3 linked regions of the Homo sapiens genome follow. The protein of the gene in region 1 purifies or fractionates together with the protein of each later gene. This does not show direct contact. Each region holds a gene or a part of one and is shown in the gene's direction. Other genes may lie near its edges.

The links. Proteins that work in one complex are often made in the same cells at the same time.
Region 2: the proteins of ARL8B (region 1) and RAB2A fractionate together in Homo sapiens (co-fractionation; 2 studies listed by BioGRID). This does not show direct contact.
Region 3: the proteins of ARL8B (region 1) and TMEM192 purify together in Homo sapiens (affinity purification with mass spectrometry; 2 studies listed by BioGRID and IntAct, with this or other methods). This does not show direct contact.

What each region holds. Positions count from the first base shown.
Region 1 is NC_000003.12:5,167,263-5,174,291, forward strand, and holds part of ARL8B (ADP-ribosylation factor-like protein 8B), read left to right. Parts: intron 1-3,240; coding exon 3,241-3,321; intron 3,322-4,887; coding exon 4,888-4,961; intron 4,962-5,384; coding exon 5,385-5,478; intron 5,479-6,754; coding exon 6,755-6,822; intron 6,823-7,029. UniProt on the Homo sapiens protein: Small GTPase which cycles between active GTP-bound and inactive GDP-bound states.
Region 2 is NC_000008.11:60,582,984-60,590,012, forward strand, and holds part of RAB2A (ras-related protein Rab-2A), read left to right. Parts: intron 1-1,224; coding exon 1,225-1,307; intron 1,308-1,739; coding exon 1,740-1,832; intron 1,833-7,029.
Region 3 is NC_000004.12:165,095,835-165,102,863, reverse strand, and holds part of TMEM192 (transmembrane protein 192), read left to right. Parts: intron 1-1,971; coding exon 1,972-2,236; intron 2,237-7,029.

The sequences.
Region 1 (7,029 bases):
CATGGCATTTAAGAAGGCAGGCATGAAAGCATACAGTAGTCCCTCTTATCCATGGTTTTGCTTTCCAGTTTCAGTTACCTATGATCAACCTCTGAAATAATAATGACTCTAAAGCAGAAGAGTACTGTGCCTAATTTATAAATTAAGCTTTATCATAGGTATGTATGTATTGGGAAAAACATAGTGTACATAGGGTTAGGTTCTATCTGTGATGTCAGGCATCCACTGGGGTTCTTGGAACGTATCCCCCAAGGATAAGGAGGGACTACTTACTTTTATTTTTCTACTCTTTCCCCCCCAAGTCAGATTAACTCATAATTATCCAGATCTTAAGAACAATGTGACTTTAGGCAAGTGACTTAAGCTGACTTTGCCTTGTTTTTCTCATCTGAGAAATGAAGATAATGCTACTCATTTCATTGGGTTGTTATAAGGATTAAACTATGCTGATGAATGTTAAGTGCTTAGTATTACGTGTTTGTTAAATTTGTTAAAATAAGTAGAATGATATACTACTAAGTAGTATTTTCTAAACATCTGTTTCCCAAACCTGTAGTCTTAATTAAGCAGCTTCTTGACAGCTCAGACATAAATTCTCAGGTATCTAGTGCCCAGTTGCCAACTGAGTGGTTATAGTTGTTCAACACAAGCTTTGAAAAGTGATGATTAAGATTGGACACTAGGAAAGAAGTAGAAAATACTTCCAGGTCCATAAAGTAATTATTGCACAAAATTCATGCATCAAAGTTAAGCACTTTATTGGCAGAAGAGTTCCAGCATTTTCCTCCTTCATGGCCTATGTTTTTTTTGAGACATGCTCTCACTCTATTGTCTAGGCTGGAGTACAGTGGCACAATCTTGTCTTAAAGTCATATCGTTCTTAAGATCTCAACCTCCACCTCCCAGGCTCAAGCAATCCTCCCACCTCAGCCTCCCTAGTAGCTGGGACTACAGGTGCATATAACCATGCCTGGCTAATTTTTGTATTTGTAGAGAGAAGGTTTTGCCGTGTCACCCAGGCTAGTCTTGAACTCCTGGGCCGCAGCAACCTGCCTGTCTCAGCCTCCCAAAGTGCTGGAATTACAAGCTTGAGCCACTATGCCTGGCCCTAATAACTCTTAGTTTGTTCAACAAATATTTATTGAATATCTTGCTCTACTCAAGAATTTTGGAGTAAAAACTCAAGGACTTGATTAGCTAATTTTCGGTTTTTGCATGTTAGCAGTAGCAGCTGAGTTACAGGAAAGTTGTTAGGGTTGGCCAAGGTAAAGAAAAGAGATAAATGAACCCCTGAGAAAGCTCGGGGGTACCCCAGTATACTGCAGCCCCCTACATTATTTTATTATGAAGTGCTGTAGTTGATGTTCATAATCATAAAACTTTACCTCCAATAGGGAGGGCCCTTGAGTGTTATCTAATTTAGTTTTCTTGTTTTGCAATAGATAAACTGACCCAGAAACATTGAGAACACATTAAATCATGTTCTATAGGTTGTTTGTGGGAAGTTAGCCAAGTGTATATTGCCTTTTAGAAAGCTTTCCATGCAAGCTAGTTGTAAAGTTTGGTACCTAAAAATTTTAGCTACTATTTTTCCTGCCTCTTCATTATGTAAAACACTTAATGATATGAAATAAATGAGCATTATCTCACGTAGATCTCTCCTCAGAGATTAAAGCCTATCACAATAAATATAATTACAATGAAAATATTTAAGAAAAATATAATCACGATTTAGCCATGTGACCTTGGGACTCTACTACCTGTTCTATGAAATGATAATGATAATTGTCCCTCCCTGTATGATGACTAGTTTTTTAAAAATTTTGGTAAAATACATAAAACACAAAGTATCATCTTAGTCATTTTTAAGTGTGCAATTCAGTAGTGTTAAGTACATTCACATTGTGTAACCATCACCACTGTCCACTTCTAGAAATTTGTTATCTTTTCAAACTGAAACTCCATACCCATTAAGCAAATTAATATCTTCTGTCTTTATGAATTTGACTATTTTAGGTACCTCATAAAGTGAAATACAGTGTTTGTGTGTGTGTGTGTGTGTGTGTGTGTGTGTGTGTGTGAGTGTGTGAGACTTCTGGCTCATTTCATTTAGCAAAATGTCTTCATTTCTTTTGAGTGTATATTCAGAAGTTGAATTGCTGGATCATATGATAATTCTATTTTTAGGTTTTTCAGGAACTGCTATACCATTTTTCATAGCAGCTATACCATTTTGCCTTCCTGCCAGCAGTATACAAGAGTTCCTATTTCTCTGCATTCTTTCCAGTGCTTTCTGTTTTTTTTCTTTTCCTCTTAATAGTAGCCATCCTACTGGATGTTAGGTGGTATCTCTTTGTGGGTTTGATTTGCATTTCCCTAATGATTAGTGAGTCGAACGTCTTTTCATGAGTTCATTGGCCATTTATCTTTTATCATGGCTTACTTTTGATATAACTAGTTTAGATAGAATGACTAGATTTTCACATATAATCACATATGTGAAAGTCCTGAGAATTATAATGTCTTATATAAGTGAAAGTAGTGACTATGGCTGTGTTAACATTTTTTCTGAAGTTAATAAAACTCCACTGAACAGTTAAAAGAGGCACAATTCGAGTTCTGTATAGGAAGTTATTTGTACAGTTGGAATTCGTTGTGCTCAAGATTTAAGACAATTTTGGAATACATGTGTATGTGGCTAGCATAAGGCCATAGCAGACAATACTCATGACATTGAGATAAGTAACCAAAAAGAGAACAAAATTGATTACATAAAAGGAAAAACTTCTGTATGACAAAATATTTTATAAGCCTTATTAAAAGACAGACTTGGAAATGCTGTTTAGCAGTGAATTTTAATAGTTACTGTCAGAATAATTTAAATGCTGAAAGTTTTATTTCTGATCTCATCTACTTTGTGGAAATGTACATCTAGGTGAACACATTTAAAAATTTTCGTATGTATTTGTCATATAAAATTCTTTTAGCATAAGGAAATATGTAAAAAATTACATTAGTTTCAAAAATATCTTTTTTAGATGGAAGAATATATCTTTGTTGGGACAAAATAATGCATCTCTTCAAGAATTATGGCCATAAGGAACATGTTCTTAAAGTAGATTGTTACCAATGGTAAAAAAATATTTACTAAAATGGTTACAAATGCAATGTTGATATTAGAAGTTTATGCAGTGTCATTATAAGTGAGTAGCCTAACTTCAAATGTTTTATTTTGTTCAGTCAGGTCAATTCAGTGAAGATATGATACCCACAGTGGGCTTCAACATGAGGAAGGTAACTAAAGGTAACGTCACAATAAAGGTAAGTTATTTCTTGCCGTACGCAATTTAAATTGTTAGCACAGACCCCTAGAAATTTTTCTGTTAAATTTCTGTGTTTTTACTGAAAATTTGCAGTTTTTCAGTAATGAATGTGCATGTTTCAAAAGAATAGGTTTTTTTGTTGTTGTTTTTTTGTTTTTTTTTTGGAAACAGAGTTTTGCTCTTTCACCCAGGCTGGAGTGCAGTGTCGCGATCTCCACTCACTGCAACCTCTACCTCCCGGTTCAAGTGATTCTCCTGCCTCAGCCTCCAAAATAGCTAAGATGACAGGCTTGTGCCACCACACCCAGCTAATTTTTTGTACTTTTAGTAGAGACAGGGTTTCACCATGTTGGTTAGGCTCGTCTCAACTCCTAACCTCAAATGATCTGCCTGCTACGGCCTCCCCAAAGTGCTGGGATTCCAGGCGTGAGCCACCACGCCTGGCCAAGAATAGATTTTTAATCTATTTTGTTTTTCAAAAATCAAATCTATGGCCTGAGCCTTAATGTCCATTTTGCCCAATTATTGTGGTTTACAGAAGCTGTTCACTTTCTCTGTGGCTCATCTAATGAAGTTCCAGATTTAGTCAAGTGCAGGTTTCTTTATGCTTGTTACCAGTGCTTTAGTTAAACCGGAAGCCTCTTGAAGATTAATACTGTGACTTGAGACTTTAATGTAGCCCAGTGTCTAGTGTGATGCCCTACGGAGTAGACACAATAATAAAATGATTATGGATGTGGCTTTCATGTGCATAAAATAATTTTATTTTATTTTATTTTTTTGAGATGGAGTTTCACTCTTGTTGCCCAGGCTTGGAGTGCAATGGTGTGATCTCGGCTCACTGCAACCTCCGACTCCCAGGTTCAAGTGGTTCTCCTGCCTCAGCCTCCCGAGTATATTACAGGCACCTGCCACCACACCTGGCTAATTTTTTGTATTTTTAGTAGAGATGAGGTTTCACTGTGTTGGCCAGGCTGGTCTCGAACTCCTGACCCCAAGTGATCCACCCGCCTCGGCCTCCCAAAGTGCTGGGATTATAGGTGTGAGCCACCATGCCTGACCAAAATAATTTTATACAAGAAAAACACCTATGTGGAAATGTTGGCTACTTATTTACAGGATAATTTCAAAAGGTTAGGCATTAATGTAGAACAAATCAGACGATTAAGACTTAATAGATTCTGAATTGTTGTTTTCTGTCTTGGCATTCAAATCTGGATGGTGCATGGTCCTGTAGCTTTTAAATTGTTATCATAAAGACATATGTTTTCAATAATAGAAGTATATTAGTTAACAGGCAAACTATTGCACATAAACCAAATCTTTGCTTAAGCAAAATTTTAGATGTATTGTAAATGTATTAAATACGGACTTCAAGTTTAGAAGTGGCCCCAAGAATTCCCATATTAAGAGCTTGTTTGAGGTCAAGTCTTTCAGGAGCACTTTGCCTCTAACATTGTAGAAATAAATATATCTTCCCGATCTTTCTTTTTTTCTGTTACTTCCTCTTGCAATCATTTAATTAAAATATCTTTATTAAGAATTGCCTTGTTTTGATTTAAAGATCTGGGACATAGGAGGACAACCCCGATTTCGAAGCATGTGGGAGCGGTATTGCAGAGGAGTCAATGCTATTGTGTAAGTGGTTTTTTTTTGTTTGTTTGCTTTTAAATCAATGTAGGCATCAAAGAAGAAAGTTTATTTTAGTATTTCCAGAGGCTCAATTTTTATCTCAGGCAGTGAAAATCTTTCTTAGCTAATATCCTAGTGTAATTCCCAACATGGGATTTAAAAAAAATTAATCATAGAATAAGATCTTTATGTTTTTTGTTTATGGAGCTAAGAGCTAAGGGGTGTACATGTTTTACTATCATGTATTAGTCTCTAAAAACAGTCTAGTTAAAAAGTATTAAAGGGTGCTGAGCCTTTTCTTATGACATAGTTTATTTTGGTTAATAATTTCAATAATGTAAATCTTACAAAAATTAAAAATCAATAATACTAGTTGTCATCATCAAGGCATACAGAGAAGGTATGTTGAGATCACTTCATTTTTTTAAGTTACATGATAGATGCTGCAGATCGTGAAAAGATAGAAGCTTCCCGAAATGAGCTACATAATCTTCTAGATAAACCACAGTTACAAGGAATTCCAGTAAGTATGGAATACTTGTTATTTTACATTGTAATTATATAATGATATTAATTATGGTAATTATGCAGTGATATTAATTATGTTTGAAATCAGTAACATGTCTTCATTTTTAAAATCTGGAAAACTTGCTTACCATGTATCTGCCATATACTGGGCATTGTGCTAAATATGAATCTCATAACCACGTATCTACTAAACTACTATGCAGCAGGAGCAGTGCGTAGGCCCAGGGATATAGTGATGAATGGAAATCAGTAGAAACATACTCCTTGCCATCATGGACCTTATGGTTTAGTGGGAAAGGTAGATACTCTGAAAACACTTGAATAATGCAGCTTTAAGTGCTAGGAAGAAAGGTGCAAGGGGATATGAGAGTTGTAATTTAGAGGGGAGATGTGATCTAGTTTGAGGGAAGAAGGAGGGATTCACGAGGAAGTAATGGTTGAGCTGAGATCCAAGGGATACATACAAATGTGAGGTATATGACAGTTGGAGGGGAAGAGAGTTCCAGGCAAAGGCCTTTGGGTGGGAGGAAGTGGGAAACTGAGAAGAGGCCAGTCTCTAGAATACATTTAGGAATTTGCATTTGGATTAGGAATGCTCAACCAGTAAGTATATAATGCAAATCCAAAAAATTTCCAAAATTCGAAACACTTCTGGTCCCAGGTATTTTGGATAAGGGATAGTAAACCTGTACTAAGAATAGCAGAATGCCGCCGGGCGCGGTGGCTCATGCCTGTAATCCCAGCACTTTGGGAGGCCGAGATGGGCGGATCACCAGGTCAGGAGATCGAGACCATCCTGGCTAACGCGGTGAAACCCCGTCTCTACTACAAAAAATCAGCTGGGCGTGGTGGTGGGCGCCTGTAGTCCCAGCTACGGCAGGAGAATGGCGTGAACCCGGGAGGCAGAGCTTGCAGTGAGCCCAGTGGCTGCTGCACTCCAGCCTGGGTGACAGAGCGAGACTCTGTCTCAAACAAACAAACAAACAAACAAACAAACAAAAAGAATAGCAGAATGTGTATCATAGACTCAGACTATTTTACATAGCAGTTGGCAGCCACATACTGAATTAAGAGCACCTGCATGGTGGGAGTTGAGTGAATACAAGTGTGAGCAATGAAATGAATGAGACAAGCCACCAGTTACACAAATAGGCCTTAACATTGTGGAATGTGTTAACATCTTAACTTTGTGTCTTCACATATCAAGATGATAAACTTCTGTGACTTTTTCTTGCATAAACGTGTGCTCTTAATATCTTTTCTTTTTAAAGGTGCTAGTGCTTGGAAACAAGAGAGATCTTCCTAATGCCTTGGATGAGAAACAGCTAATTGAAAAAATGTATGTCTTGAATATGCTATTTTAATAATTTGCTTCTAAATTACCATATTTTGCCCACTTGTTATGTTATTCCTAATGATCATAGCCATTTTTTTTAGGTAGATAAAAGTTGGCCTATCAGAGAAGTGAATCCTAACATTTTAGGATTGCTACGATGATTTCTTCAGTATAGTAATAAAACTAATGAGTAAAATTGAACAAAGTGAT
Region 2 (7,029 bases), on another chromosome or scaffold:
AATGCCTGCTATATGCCGGACCCAGTGCCTAGCACACACTTAGTCACATGCAGGGGGTGGGGGATGGGGGAGGGAGGGAGTATAGAGGAAGGGTCAACAAGAGCAAGGTATTGTAGAGTGTTGAGTGTTAAACAGGGTAGAATATGAGCCGTCCATGCGCATTCTGAGGGTGGGAAGGGCTAAATATTTACATTGCAAGATCAGAACTCAGAATGTGTAAACATCAATATTTTTCAAGTTAGGGGATTTTGAATATAAAAATCGTTAAAATTGGCTTTACGTTTACTTAATTAAAATGCTTATGTTTTTGCAAAAGTAGGAAAAGAAGGGATTAAAAATGAAAAATAACTTCTTATAAGAGCTGTCTCGGTTTTAAACTCAGACAGAACAGTCACATTCCTCCCCAGCAATTCTTAAAAAAACAGAAATTAGTACCATGAGTAAAAGAGAAATTACCTAGCTTTGCATAATCTCTTGTGTCTGTTTCACAAGTGGATATAAAGATGACTTTTACATCCTGTTGCCTTTTGACAAGCATTATATATCAAATACAGAGAAAATTGATTAAGTGTGGAGAAAAAAACTTATATAAATTAAATTCAGAACCATTTTGCTTTTCATAATAAAATGATTGCTCAAAGAATTCCATTTGATGACTGTTGAAAGCTCACTGCAGTTTATGATATAACTGATAAAATCTGCATCCTTGGCCTTCCAACAACCTTTACACCAGCAGATGGTGGGCGTAAAGATGTCATTCATCATTTATTTACAATGGGTTTTATTTATTCTAGTGTCAACAGCTGCCCCAGGGAGTGGGTTATTGAATTCAAATGTGAGGCTCTGGGTTATTTGCTTCCTTTCAAATTTGTCTTCAGAGCTTAGTTGCTAGGAGTCCATTCTGTCCTTTAATAATGATTCGTGTATTGTGAAGCCATTCAGTAAATTGGGTTGTCAGGGATTGCCAAAAAGGGTTTAGAGGTCTTGCGGGCTGGGGAGGTTGCAGGAGCGACTACATGTGCACTACATGTGCGTCTCGTTGACTTGAGCAATCTTGAGCAATAGCGGTGTTTTGTAACTTTTTCCTAAGACTGGTGAAGTTAAGTTTTCTTGTCTCTCTTTATGCACTCCTTCCCTACCTGCTCTTATTCTGTATATGAATAATATGAAAATGTAGAGGACATTGTATTAAAGGAAACTCTCCAACCTTTTTTTTCGTTACAGGCAGGGCAAGAATCCTTTCGTTCCATCACAAGGTCGTATTACAGAGGTGCAGCAGGAGCTTTACTAGTTTACGATATTACACGGTGAGAACTTGAAAACTTTGCAATTCAGTAGTTGATACAGAGAATTTTTCTAAATAGATGTGGTTAACAGTAATGAAAGAATAGCTTAGCCTTTCTGCCCCGGCTACTCACCTTTAAAACTGCATCTTGAGTCCAATTTAAATTTACTACAGAAACCTGCAACTGAATTGTTTTTCTTATTTGAATTAGCACCTTCAAATTGAAATCGGCCATATTATTTATTCATTGGAATTTTCTAAAGTGTGATTACATTTAATTTATAAACTGAAATACAATCAGTGAACTCTAAACCCAGATATGGTGCTTAAAACTACTTCTCGTTACATAAGTGGATATGGCTAAAAGTGGTTCTCTTTAAAAATATGTATATTGTTCGTTGTATACTGAGGGAAATGCTTTGAACATAGTAATTAAATTATTATTTATGTTTAGGAGAGATACATTCAACCACTTGACAACCTGGTTAGAAGATGCCCGCCAGCATTCCAATTCCAACATGGTCATTATGCTTATTGGAAATAAAAGGTAAAAAGGCTAATTTAGAGCTTACATTGCATTAGTGATGAAGACTGTACTGTTTATTTGACTACTTTCCTTAACATTTGTTCAAATGTGAGTTACCAGCCTCTTAAATTATAAAATTTCGGAAATTCTAAGGTGTTTCTTTTGATTTTTAAAATGATGTTAATAAGCTTTGTTGGAAATTATTACTGTTATTATTAGAAATAGTTTTTGTGTAAAGAAATACTTTAAAAAGTAATCTGAAGGAGTTTTATCAGATTACTGATGTAAAGTAAAGCCTACTGATTTATTTGGGGAGTTGGATTGAACATCTTTGTGCTGTCAATTTAAAATGCTATTATATGGGAAAACCTTCTTGCTTGACCAGTTTCCATAAACTTCTAAGAGTGTGGGAAAGTTTTCACTAATTTTTGTAGAAACTTACAGTGGTAAGAAAATATTAGTATTTTCAAAATGCTAGGCACCATTCTTTTTGTTTTGTTTTGTTTTGTTTTGTTTTGTTTTGTTTTGTTTTGTTTGAGACAGGGACTCACTCTGTTACCCAGGCTAGAGTGCAGTGGTGTGATCATAGCTCACTGCAGCTTGGCCTCCCGGGCTCAAGGGAATCCTCCTGCCTCAGCCTCCAAAGTGGCTGAGACTGTAGGCATGCACAACCACAGCTAGTTTATCTTTTTATTTCTTATAAAGAAAGGGTCTCACTTTGTTGCCCAGGCTGGTCTCAGGCTCCTAACCTCAAGTGATTCTCCCACCTGGGCCTCCAAAAGTACTGGGATTATAGGCATAAGCCACCACACCCGGCCCATTCATTCTTTAGGGTTATATTAATAAAATACTCTGAAGAGATGCTGTTTTTAGATAGGTAAAATCATGACTTATATGATAATGAAGACATCTCAAAACTTTTATCTCATTAATTAACAAGATAAGGAAACTGGTAAGATATTTCAGCCAGTTCAAAAGGGAACTCAAATTACTATACATTGATAATCAAATAAAGAAACTGAAATGAATTTACAAGATGGATGCAAAACTGAACAGTATTCACAGGGTATTAATTGTATTCCACAGGACACAGTCTGCATTTCCATGGACAGGAATTATTTGCGTTTATTCCCACAAGTTAACTTCTCTCTCTGCAGTCTTTGAAAATGTGTGAGATGCAGTTAAAATAGTACTATCAAGAAAATTTTTAAATGAACAGCCTAGGGCCAGGTACAGTGGCTCACACCTGTGATCCCAACACTTTGGGAGGCCCAGGTGGAGGATTGCTTGATCCCAGGAGTTCAAGATCAGCCCGGGCAACACAGGGAGACTCCATCTCTACAACAAATTTTAAAATTTAGCTAGACATGATGGTGCATTCCTGTGATTCCAGCTACTCAGGAGGCTGAGGTGGGAGAATCACTTGAGCCCAGTTGAGGCTGCAGTGAACTGTGTTCATGCCACTGTACTCCAGCCTGAGCAACAAAGCAAGACCTTGTCTCAAAAAAAAAAAGAAAATAGCCTAATTTTTTTGCCTTAAGAAACTAGAATAAGAGCAAATCAAAGTTAAGGAAAGCCTCCTGCCCGTTAAAAAAAAAAGAGAGAGAGAAAACCAATGAAACCAAAAGCTAATTCTTCAGAAGATAAAATAAAATAGATACTGATCAGGAAAAAGACAAACATTAGCAATATCAGGAAAGAAAGGTTGACATCACTATAGATAAAAAAAAGAGAGAGAATATTGTAAACAGACTAAATAAATGAAGAGATATAACCATGTTCATGGATTGTAAAACTAAATATAAGATGTCTTCTCAAATTTATCTAAAAATTCATTGAAGGCCAGGTACAATGGCTCACATCTGTAATCCCAGCACTTTGGGAGGCCAAGGCAGGAGCATCACATGAGGCAAGGAGTTCAAGACCAGCCTGAGAATGTAGCAAGACCCTATCTCTACAAAAAATAAAATAATAATTAAAAAAAACTAGCTAGGCATGCTGGCACACGCCTTTAGCTCTACTTACTCAGGAAGCAGAGGTGAGAGGATCACTTGAATCCAGGAGCTCAAGGTTGCAGTGAGCTATGATTGTGCCACCTGCACTCCAGCCTGGGCAAAAGAGCAAGACTCTGTCTCCAAGAAAAAAAAAAAAAAAAAAAGATTTATTGTAACCCTAATCAAACTATCAAACATTGGCAGACTTTTTTGGGAGGGTAGATATTGACAAGCTGACTTTAAAGTTTATGTGCAAAGGCCACGGAATAGCCAAATCAACTTTGACAAAGAGGCACAATATTGGAGAGAATTTACTATTCTACAAATTTTAAGATTTATTATACTATAGTCAATTTACTATTGTTTGGCATAAGCAGACATAGATCAGTAGAGCCGAATAAGAAGTTCCAGAAGTAGATTCATATATATATGATATATTAATTTTTTGACAGAGATGCTAATTTAGTTGAAGAAGGGGTAATCTTTTTCATCAAATGGTGCTGAAACAGTTAATAGTCATATGTAAAAATATGAACCTCAACTGTTACATTATACCATTTACAAAAATTAACTGGAAGTGGATCATAGACCTAAGTGTGAGAGCTAAAACTACTTAAAATTTCTAAAAGAAAACAAATTGTAGTGACCCTGTTTTGGCAAACATTTCTTAAATGGGACAGAGAAAAGCATGAACTTATAGTTCAGAAAAAAAATCAATAAATTGTTCTTTAACTGAATTTAAAACTTTTGTTCTTCAAAAGACGGTTACACTATTATACAACATCGTGACATGGTTAATGATGATATAGTGCATTCTGGAAAAATGCTGAAAGAGTGGATGTTAAGTGTTCTCACCACAAAAAACGATAACTGTGAGATAATGCAAATTAGCTAGATTAACCATTCCACAGTGTATATATACTTTAAAACAATATGTTGTACATGATAAATATATGCAATTTTACCTATCAATTTAAATAAATAAATTTGAAGAAAAACGGTTACAAAAATGAAAAGACAAGCTACAGACTAGCAGAAAATATTTGTGAAAAATGTATCTGACAAAGGATTTATATCTAGAATATATGAAGAATGCTTATAATTCATTAATAAGAAGACATCCACTTTTTAAAAATGATCTAAAGATTTGAACCAGCAATTACTACAGAAGATATACTACTGATGGGAACGTAAAATGATACAATCACTTTGGAAAACAATTTGGTAGTTTCTTTAGAAATTAAAAGGCCGAGGCGGGAGGATTGCTTCAGCCTAGGAGTTTGAGACCAGCCTGGGCAATGTAGGGAGACTTCTTCTATACAAAAATAAGAAATTTTTTAAAAAAGTAGCTGAACATGGTGGTACATACTTGTAGTCCCAGCTACTCCAGAGGCTGAGGTGGTAGGATCACTTAAGCCTGAGAGGTCAAGGCTGCAGTGAGCCATGATCATGCCACTGTATTCCAGCCTAGGCCACAGAGCAAGACCCTGTCTCAAAAAAAAGAAATAAAGCACACATCTATATTTCCTAGCCACTTTACTCCCAGATGTTTACCCAACATAAATATGTCTTCATGTGTCCACAGAATTATGTACAAATATTCATACCAGCTTTATTTCTAATAGCCCCAAACTGGAAACAACCCAAATATCAATTAACAGATGAATCGAAAAATAGTGATACAGCATTACAACAGACTACAACTCAGCTATAAAGAGGAATGAACTATTGATACATGCAGCAAAATGGATGATTCTCAAAATAATTACAGAGTGAAAAAACTCAGACCAAAAATACCATGTGATTACATTTATATAAAAATCCTAGTAAATGTGTACTAATCTGTAGTGGCAGAAAGCAGATCATCAGCTGCCTAGGGTGCAGGGGCAAGAAGGGATGGATTACAATGGAGTATGAGGAAACTTTTGGGAGACTGATGGCTTCACGGGCTTACATATCTTAAAACTCAACAAATTTTGCATTTAAGTACAACTTCTTTTATGTCTGTTACACCTCAAAAAAGCTATAATGTAAAACATCGTTATACTGTATAGATTTTAGAGTGTTGTTTTAATAGAAATTGAGATTTGCTATTAAGAGAAAATATTACCTAAGTGATATTTACATTATAAAAAGCTAAACATTGTTTACTTCTTTGTGTAGAGAAGAAACTATTATCATATTCTCTGAAGGCCTTTCTTGGGTATTCTTTTCCACATTTAAATCATCTCACTAAACCTTTTTAAGGTTATAAAGCTATTGGAGGGAAGTTTTAGTCTTTCTATGATGGAAATAGTTATTCTGTCATTCAAGGTATGAAATAATAAGAGGAGAATACTTGGAAAATAAAGAGAATTTTTATCCTTTTATTTTACCAATTTTTTCCTTGTGGCTGAAACATGATGAGTGACAGCTTACTGGTGGCTTAAATTTGGTCACCGACCACTAGGAGCTGATAGTTCAAATGTGAGAAGAAATAAACAAAGCATAGTATGTAAACGAGATGTTTCTGATGATCGTAGGTGGGTGACCTTTAAAATCAGGAGTATAACGAACAAGAAAGAACAGAGAGAAATAAATGAGATGATTATTTTTAGATGAATTGAACTGTGGATAGACATCAAAACAGGGAATAAGCAATTTTTGAATTAGACGCATTAAGCAGTAGGGAGCCAGTGAAGGGCAGTGACCTAGTCAGAGCAACAGATGACACAAATTTTTCTTACTATGGCATTTTATTAATAAATTGGTTATATAAGAAATAGGAAGCAGAGATTTAAAAAATGAAAGTTTTTTAATAGTGTAAGGGTTGTAATGCAAACCCTAAACAAAAAGGGGCCATAAATTAAAAGAAAGATACTTAAGTAACCTAAGCAACTTAAGTGGGATTCAGAGGGAGTGAACTAAGACAACAATATGATGTAATGCCTGGAAAACTGAGGTATTTTTAAAACTTTGCACTAAGTATATCGTCAAGTACTATGGCTTTTGAGTTTTTTGATTTGACCTATAGTAAGAAATGTATTTTACATCATGACCTAGTAAATAAATTGTGTATACACCTACACATATAACAAAATATTCGTAAATTATACCTTTATACGTAAGTTCCATGAAACAGTAGATGGAACTTATGTATATAGGTGATAGACTCTGATATTTTATATTGTTTCTTTTTTTTTTCCCTTCCCAAGATGGAGTCTCACTCTGTCGCCCAGGCTGGA
Region 3 (7,029 bases), on another chromosome or scaffold:
TATCAACATTTAAAATGTAGGGCACATGTTCTTAGGACATCCTGAGTGCTGTGTCATGGGCAAAAAAAAAAAAAAAAAAGTACGTACACTTTTACTTATATCTTCAAATAATTCATTGTGGATATATTTGCACACATGTAAAGATATTGTTGATAATAGCCATGTTGTCTGTCATATCAAGAGACTACAAACTACCTGGCTACTTGGCATCCAGAAGACACTGTGTGTCCCATTCATATAAGGAAATGCTATGCAACTGTTAAGAATGGGGTGGATAGGTATACAGTATATTAACATAGAATAGCCTTCATGATTACATTGTCGAGTGAAAAAAAATCAAGTTTTCAACCTTGTGTACAGAATGTTCCTATCTGCAGTTTTTAAAAGGGAGTTGAGAGGGCTGTTGTGGACCTGTTTTCCTGTATATAATAGAATATTTCTAGAAGCATTCACAGACCTAGTTGCCTCTGAAATGAGGACTGAGGGTCTTGGTGGAAGAGACACTAATATAATTTACTGTTTACTTTTGAATACTACTTGATTTTTTAACCATGTGCTTGTATTACTTTTTCAGTTACAAAAAAGATGCAGAAAAGTCTACATATGTTGACACAGGAATTTATCAATTTACTTATACCTAGGGAATAATGTTTAGCAGACAAATCAAGTTGCAGTGGAATAATATGTACAATTTTTGTATGATGACAAAATTACAACTATCTGGAGTTTATAAAAACACATGTGCAAAAGGTCTTATCGCAGGCCTCACTGGTGGTGACTCCACTGCCAGTCTGTTTAATCAGTTCCTCCCTTTCGACGATTGCAGTTGGAAGCACTAGGGGTTATAGTTGTTCTCTGCTGCAATGTGAAAAATCAAGAGGGCTCATTCTCACCACTCCTTGAGTATTTACGAGGACTGTGAATGGAGTTGATTGACTTGCTCAGCCTCTGCTCAGCCTCCTACTGATAGGTTTGCCTGTCTGCAGGGACCGTATCCCTCAGCACATTTCCTGGCTTCCCCTGCAGCTGGGATTCCTCTCCAGTGAAGTGCACTGTGGGAGACTTGAGTTCAGAACTGAATCACTGGGGAGAGAGGTGGTATCCCCTTTCCTTGAGGGAACTAGTAGCTGTGGTATGGCTCCACCATGGCTTCCTGATCCCCAGATCCCAGCTGAAGCGCTTTCTTCTTGGTACCACCATGTGCAGGGGTGGCCTTGTGGTTTCCAGATGGTGACCTCTTTTTCTTCTTTCCTTTTACTTTTTGTGTAACATACTCTGTACCAGCCTGGGTGCCATAGCAAGAACCTGTCTCTATAAAAACTTCTTAAAATTGGCCAGGCATGGTGGCACAGGCCTGTAGTTCCAGCTACTCCAGAGACTGAGGTAGGAGGATCGCTTGAGCCCAGGAGGTTGAGGCTGCAGTGAGCAGAGATGGCACCACTGCACTCCAGCCTGGGCAACAGGGCAAGACCGTATCTCACACAGAAAACAAAAATACATTTAAACAAAACAAAACGAAAATACATTTAAAAACTCATTTATAAAAATAGGACAGGGGAAGCTGTAGGTATAAGAATGTATGCTGGGAAGCCGGGTGCGGTGGCTCACACCTGTAATTCCAGCACTTTGGGAGGCTGAGGTGGGTGGATCATGAGGTCAGGAGATCGATATCATCCTGGCTAACATGGTGAAACCCCGTCTCTACTAAAAATGCAAAAAGTTAGCCAGGCGTGGTGGCGGGTGCCTGTAGTCCCAGCTACTCGGGAGGCTGAGGCAGGAGAATGGCGTGAACCCGGGAGGTGGAGCTTGCAGTAAGCCGAGATTGCGCCACTGCACTCCAGCCTGGGCGACAGAGTGAGACTCTGTCTCAGAAAAAAAAAAAAAAAAAAAAAGAATGTATGCTGGGATGGTAGTTATTGCTTCCTAATTACAAATATTGAATATTAATCTTTCTGCTCTCCTTTCCCCCAGCTCGTGTTTGTTGTTTTAGCATTTTTAACAGGTGTGCTTTGTTCTTATCCTAATCCAAATGAGGACAAGTGCCCAGGAAATTACACAAACCCATTGAAAGTTCAGACGGTTATAATCCTTGGGAAAGTTATTTTGTGGATTCTCCATTTACTCCTTGAATGCTACATCCAGTATCACCACAGCAAAATCAGAAACCGAGGCTATAACTTGATCTACCGATCAACAAGGCATCTCAAGAGACTTGCGTTGATGATACAGTCCTCTGGTATGTCCAATTTTCTCTCAGCTACTTGGGTGCTTGAGGGACAAAAATGACAGCAGAAAGAATATATGAAGTTTGATTTTAGAATCAAATATATTCTCTCATTTTTGTAAGGTTGATGTGTGTTCTGACCACTAAAATTTGGATCACCTTAATGTCTTAAAGCTTTTCTTGGCCGGGTGCGGTGGCTCACGCCTATAATCCCAGCACTTTGGAATGCTGAGGTGGGCAGATCACGAGGTCAGGAGATCGAGACCATCCTGGCCAACATGGTGAAACCCCGTCTCTACTAAAAATACAAAAATTAGCTGGGCGTGGTGGTGCATGCCTGTAATCCCAGCTACTCAGGAGGCTGAGGCAGGAGAATTGCTTGAACCAGGGAGTCAGAGGTTGCAGTGAGCTGAGACTGTGCCACTGCACTCCAGCCTGGCAACACAGCGAGACTCCATCTCAAAAAAAAAAAAAAAAGAACTTTTATTATGAAATATATAGCCTTAATTTTCATTTGAAATCTGTTATTTGTTATGAACATGGTGTCCTCATAGCATGTGTGAAGTGTGGAATTATACCCTCTTTTGTTACCAGGTGGTTTACTCATCTCATAAAGATAGAAATGCTGTTGCTATTTGACATTTCTGAGGATAGGGAGAGGGAATTTTTAAATTTTATTTTATTTTCTCTGAGGCAGGGCCTTGCTCTGTCACCCAAGACTGAAAGGCAGTGGGGCCTTCATGGCTCACTGTAGCCTGGAATTCCTGGGCTTAAGCAATCCTCCCACCTCAGCCTCCTGAGTAGCTGAGACTACAGGTGCATGCCACCACACCCGGCTAATTTTTTTAAACATTTTATGTAGAAGCAGGTTCTCACCATGTTGCCCAGGTTGGTCACTGGAACTCCTGGCCTCAAACAACCCTCCTGCCTCAGGCTCCCAAAGCTCTAGGATTACAGGTGTGAGCCAGTCCTGGTGGGAACTTTTTAAAAATGAAGCTCAGTGCTTTTCTTGCAGTAGGAGACAGTAATGGTTAGTTCCTAGGATAGAGGACTGTTAGGCAGTGAGATGCATTATATCAAACAGAAAACTTGGAAAACACACAGGTCCTAATTTATGAAGGCAAGATCAGAAGGTCCACATGAGACTTAGAATGCATGAGTACTTGCTTTTCTTTATCGTTGCAGACATTTTAAAGATTTAATGGAATTAAATTGAACTTCTTTAGGTAAATTTGGCATTAAGTTATAGTAAATGGCCGGGCACAGTAGCTCATGCCTGTAATCCCAGCACTTTGGGAGGCTGAGGTGGGCAGATCCCTTGAGGTCAGGAGTTTGAGACCAGCCTGGGCAACATGGAGAAACCCCTCTCTACTAAAAACACAAAAATTAGCCAAGTGTGGTGGTGTGCCCCTGTGGTCCCAGCTACTCTGGAAGCTGAGGTGGGAGAATTGCTTGAGCCGAGATCATGCCACTGCACTCCAGACTCCAGCCTGGGTGACAGAGTGAGACCCCATCTCAAAAAAAAAAAAAAAAAAAAGAAAGAAAAAAAGTTGTAGTAAATAACTTAGTTTCTACCTTTTAAAAAGATCCTGTTTTTCAATTTGAGTCCAGAATAAATCTTAAAAATTTTTGAATCCAGGCCAGGCTCGGTGGCTCATGCCTGTAATCCCAGCACTTTGGGAGGCCGAAGCGGAAGGATCACCTGACGTCAGGAGTTCGAGACCAGCCTGGCCAACATGGTGAAACCTCATCTCTACTAAAAATACAAACGAAAATTAGCCGGGTGTGGTGGCACGCGCCTGTAGTCCCAGCTACTTGGGAGGCTGAGGCAGGAGAATCGCTTGAACCTGGGAGGCAGAGGTTACAGTGAGCCGAAGTCATGCCGCTGCACTCCAGCCTGGGCAACAAGAGCGGAACACTGCCTCAAAAGAAAAAAAAACTTGAATCCATATGTAGTCTTCCTACTTGGAGGAGGCAGCGAGAAAAAGAAAAAGAAGGAAAAAGAAAAAAAAATTTTTTTTGAATCCAGGCTGGGCATGGTGGCTCATGCCTATAATCACAGAGCTTTGGGAGGCCAAGGTAGGAGGATTGCTTGAGGCCAGGAGTTCGAGACCAGCCTGGGCAACATAGTGAGTTCCCCCATCTCTACCAAAAATGAGAAATTTAGTGCTGTAACAAATGAGCACCAAGTTAAGTTTTAAAAAAAAAAAGAAATTCCTGGGCGTGGTGGCTCACGCCTATAATCCCAGCACTTTGGGAGGCCGAGGCGGGTAGATTCCCTGAGGTCAGGAGTTCGAGACCAGCCTGGCCAACATGGTGAAACCCTGTCTCTACTAAAAATACAAAAATTAGCTGAACGTGGTGGCGGGCAACTGTAATCCCAGCTACTCGGGAGGCTGAGGCAGGAGAATTGCTTGAATCCGGGAGGCAGAGGTTGCAGTGAGCTGCAATCATACCATTGCACTGCAGCCTGGGTGACAAGAGCGAAACTCTGTCTAAAAAAAAAATTAAGGCCGGGCACGGTGGCTCATGCCTGTAATGCTAGCATCTCAGCACTTTGGTAGGCTGAGGCGGGAGGATCACTTGAGGTCAGGAGTTTGAGACCAGCCTGGTCAACATGATGAAACCCCATCTCTACTAAAAATACAAAAATTAGCTGGGTGTGATGGCAGGTGGCTGTAATTCCAGCTACTCAGGAGGCTGAGAATCGCTTGAACCCGGGAGATCAAGATTGCAGTAAGCTGAGATCGTGCCACTCCAACCTGGGTGACAGAGTGAGACTCGATCTCTAAATAAATAAATAAATCTCTATTTCAAAATAAATAAATAAATAAGTAAAATAAAATAAAATAAATAAATTAGTCATGTGTGGTAGCCTGTGCCTGTAGTCCTAGCTACTTGGGAGGCTGAGGTGGGAGGATCCACTTGAGCCCAGGAGTTTGAGGCTGCAGTGAGCTATGATTATGCACCACACTCCAGCCTAGGTGAAAGAGTGACACCCCCCTCTATAAAAAAAGAAAAAAAAATTGGATCAAATTAGAGATTTTTTTCTCCAAAAAAAAAAAAAAAAGGCTCCACAGAATTTAACTTTTATTTTTCTTCTGTTCTGTTAGTGCATTTTCTTTTTTCTTTTTTTTTTTTTTTTTGAGATGGAGTCTCGCTCTGTCACCCAGGCTGGAGTGCAGTGGCGCTATCTCGGCTCACTGCAAGCTCCGCCTCCCGGGTTCAGGCCATTCTCCTGCCTCAGCCTCCCGAGTAGCTGGGACTGCATTCGCCCGCCACCACGCCTGGCTAATTTTTTGTATTTTTAGTAGAGACGGGGTTTCACCGTGTTAGCCAGGATGGTCTCGATCTCCTGACCTTGTGATCCGCCGGCCTCGGCCTCCCAAAGTGCTGGGATTACAGGCATGAGCCACCGCGCCCGGCCTGTTAGTGCATTTTCTTAAAGGGCATGCTGCAAGTTCATCTACTCAGTGAAATTCTCAGTGGAAGCTGAAGGGCTATGCTATATCAGCGTGAAGCAGTTTATAGAGTTGGGTGATCCTGACTGCTCTTGAAGGGGAAGCATTTATTGCTCCCTGCCTCTTGTGAGAATGAGCTTGAGAATGTTCAACTGTTGATGTGCAGCTCTCTCTTTTGGCCAGAAGATGTCAGGGTAACACAAAGATTAAAAAAAAAGAAAAAACTTAATTTTAAACTACAAAAGATCTTATATGATCTGTGACCAAAATAATACTCAGTTTCTCAAGTGATGGTCTGGAAATAGTATTTTGGAAGCTCACAAGGAGATTATTTGATCTTTACCTTTCCAAAATCTGCCTTTCAAATTTTTGTTAAACATGTGAGCCGTAATCATAATCTATTTCTGAACACTTGGACCTTTAGAATCACAGGTGATATCACGTTTATGTGGCTCATGTGAAAACCCAGAAAATCAAACGGAATGGAGCAGGTACTTACCTTATTTCTATTTTTTAAAATATTTTTTCTTATTTGCAAAAAAAAAAAAAGATAAATCTATGGAGATGTAGGATGTAGGACTTACAGATAACAGTACTGATAATATTAACTTCAGCCTGATATATTTTGTTATTTTCCAGAGAAGAAAAAAAATTATTTACCTTTGGGTGGAGATGGGAGAAAGGGCTTTGCTTTCCTACCAAGTGAAAATATTTACCTGATTAATCTGTTCTCCTTCCTTAGATCCAAATACATATATATATATATAATTTTTTTTTTGAGAGTCTTGCTCTGTTGTCCAGGCTGGAGTGCAGTGGTATGAACTCAGCTAACTGCAACCTCTGCCTCCCAGGTTCAACTGATTCTCCTGCCTCAGCCTCTCCAGGCTAGACTACAGGCACGCACCACCACACACAGCTAATTTTTATATTTTTAGTAGAGACGAGGCTTCACCATGTTGGCCAGGCTGGTCTCGAACTCCTAACCTCAGGTGATCCGCTCCCCTTGGCCTCCCATAGTGCTGGCATTACAGGCATGAGCCACTGCGCCCGGCCTAATAATATTTGAGTTCAAAATGTATTTGGGCCAGGTGCAGTGGCTCACGCCTGTAACACCAGCACTTTGGGAGGTCGAGGCAGGCAGATCACCTGATGTCAGGAGTCCAAGACAGGCCTGGCCAACATGGTGAAACCCTGTCTGTACTAAAAATACAAAAAAAAAAAAAAAAAATTAGCTGGGCATGACTGGGGTGGTGGTGGGCGCCTATAATCCCAGCTACTCAGGAGGCTGAGGCAGGAGAATTGCTTGAACCTGGGAGGTGGAGGTTGCAGTGAGCGAAGATGGCG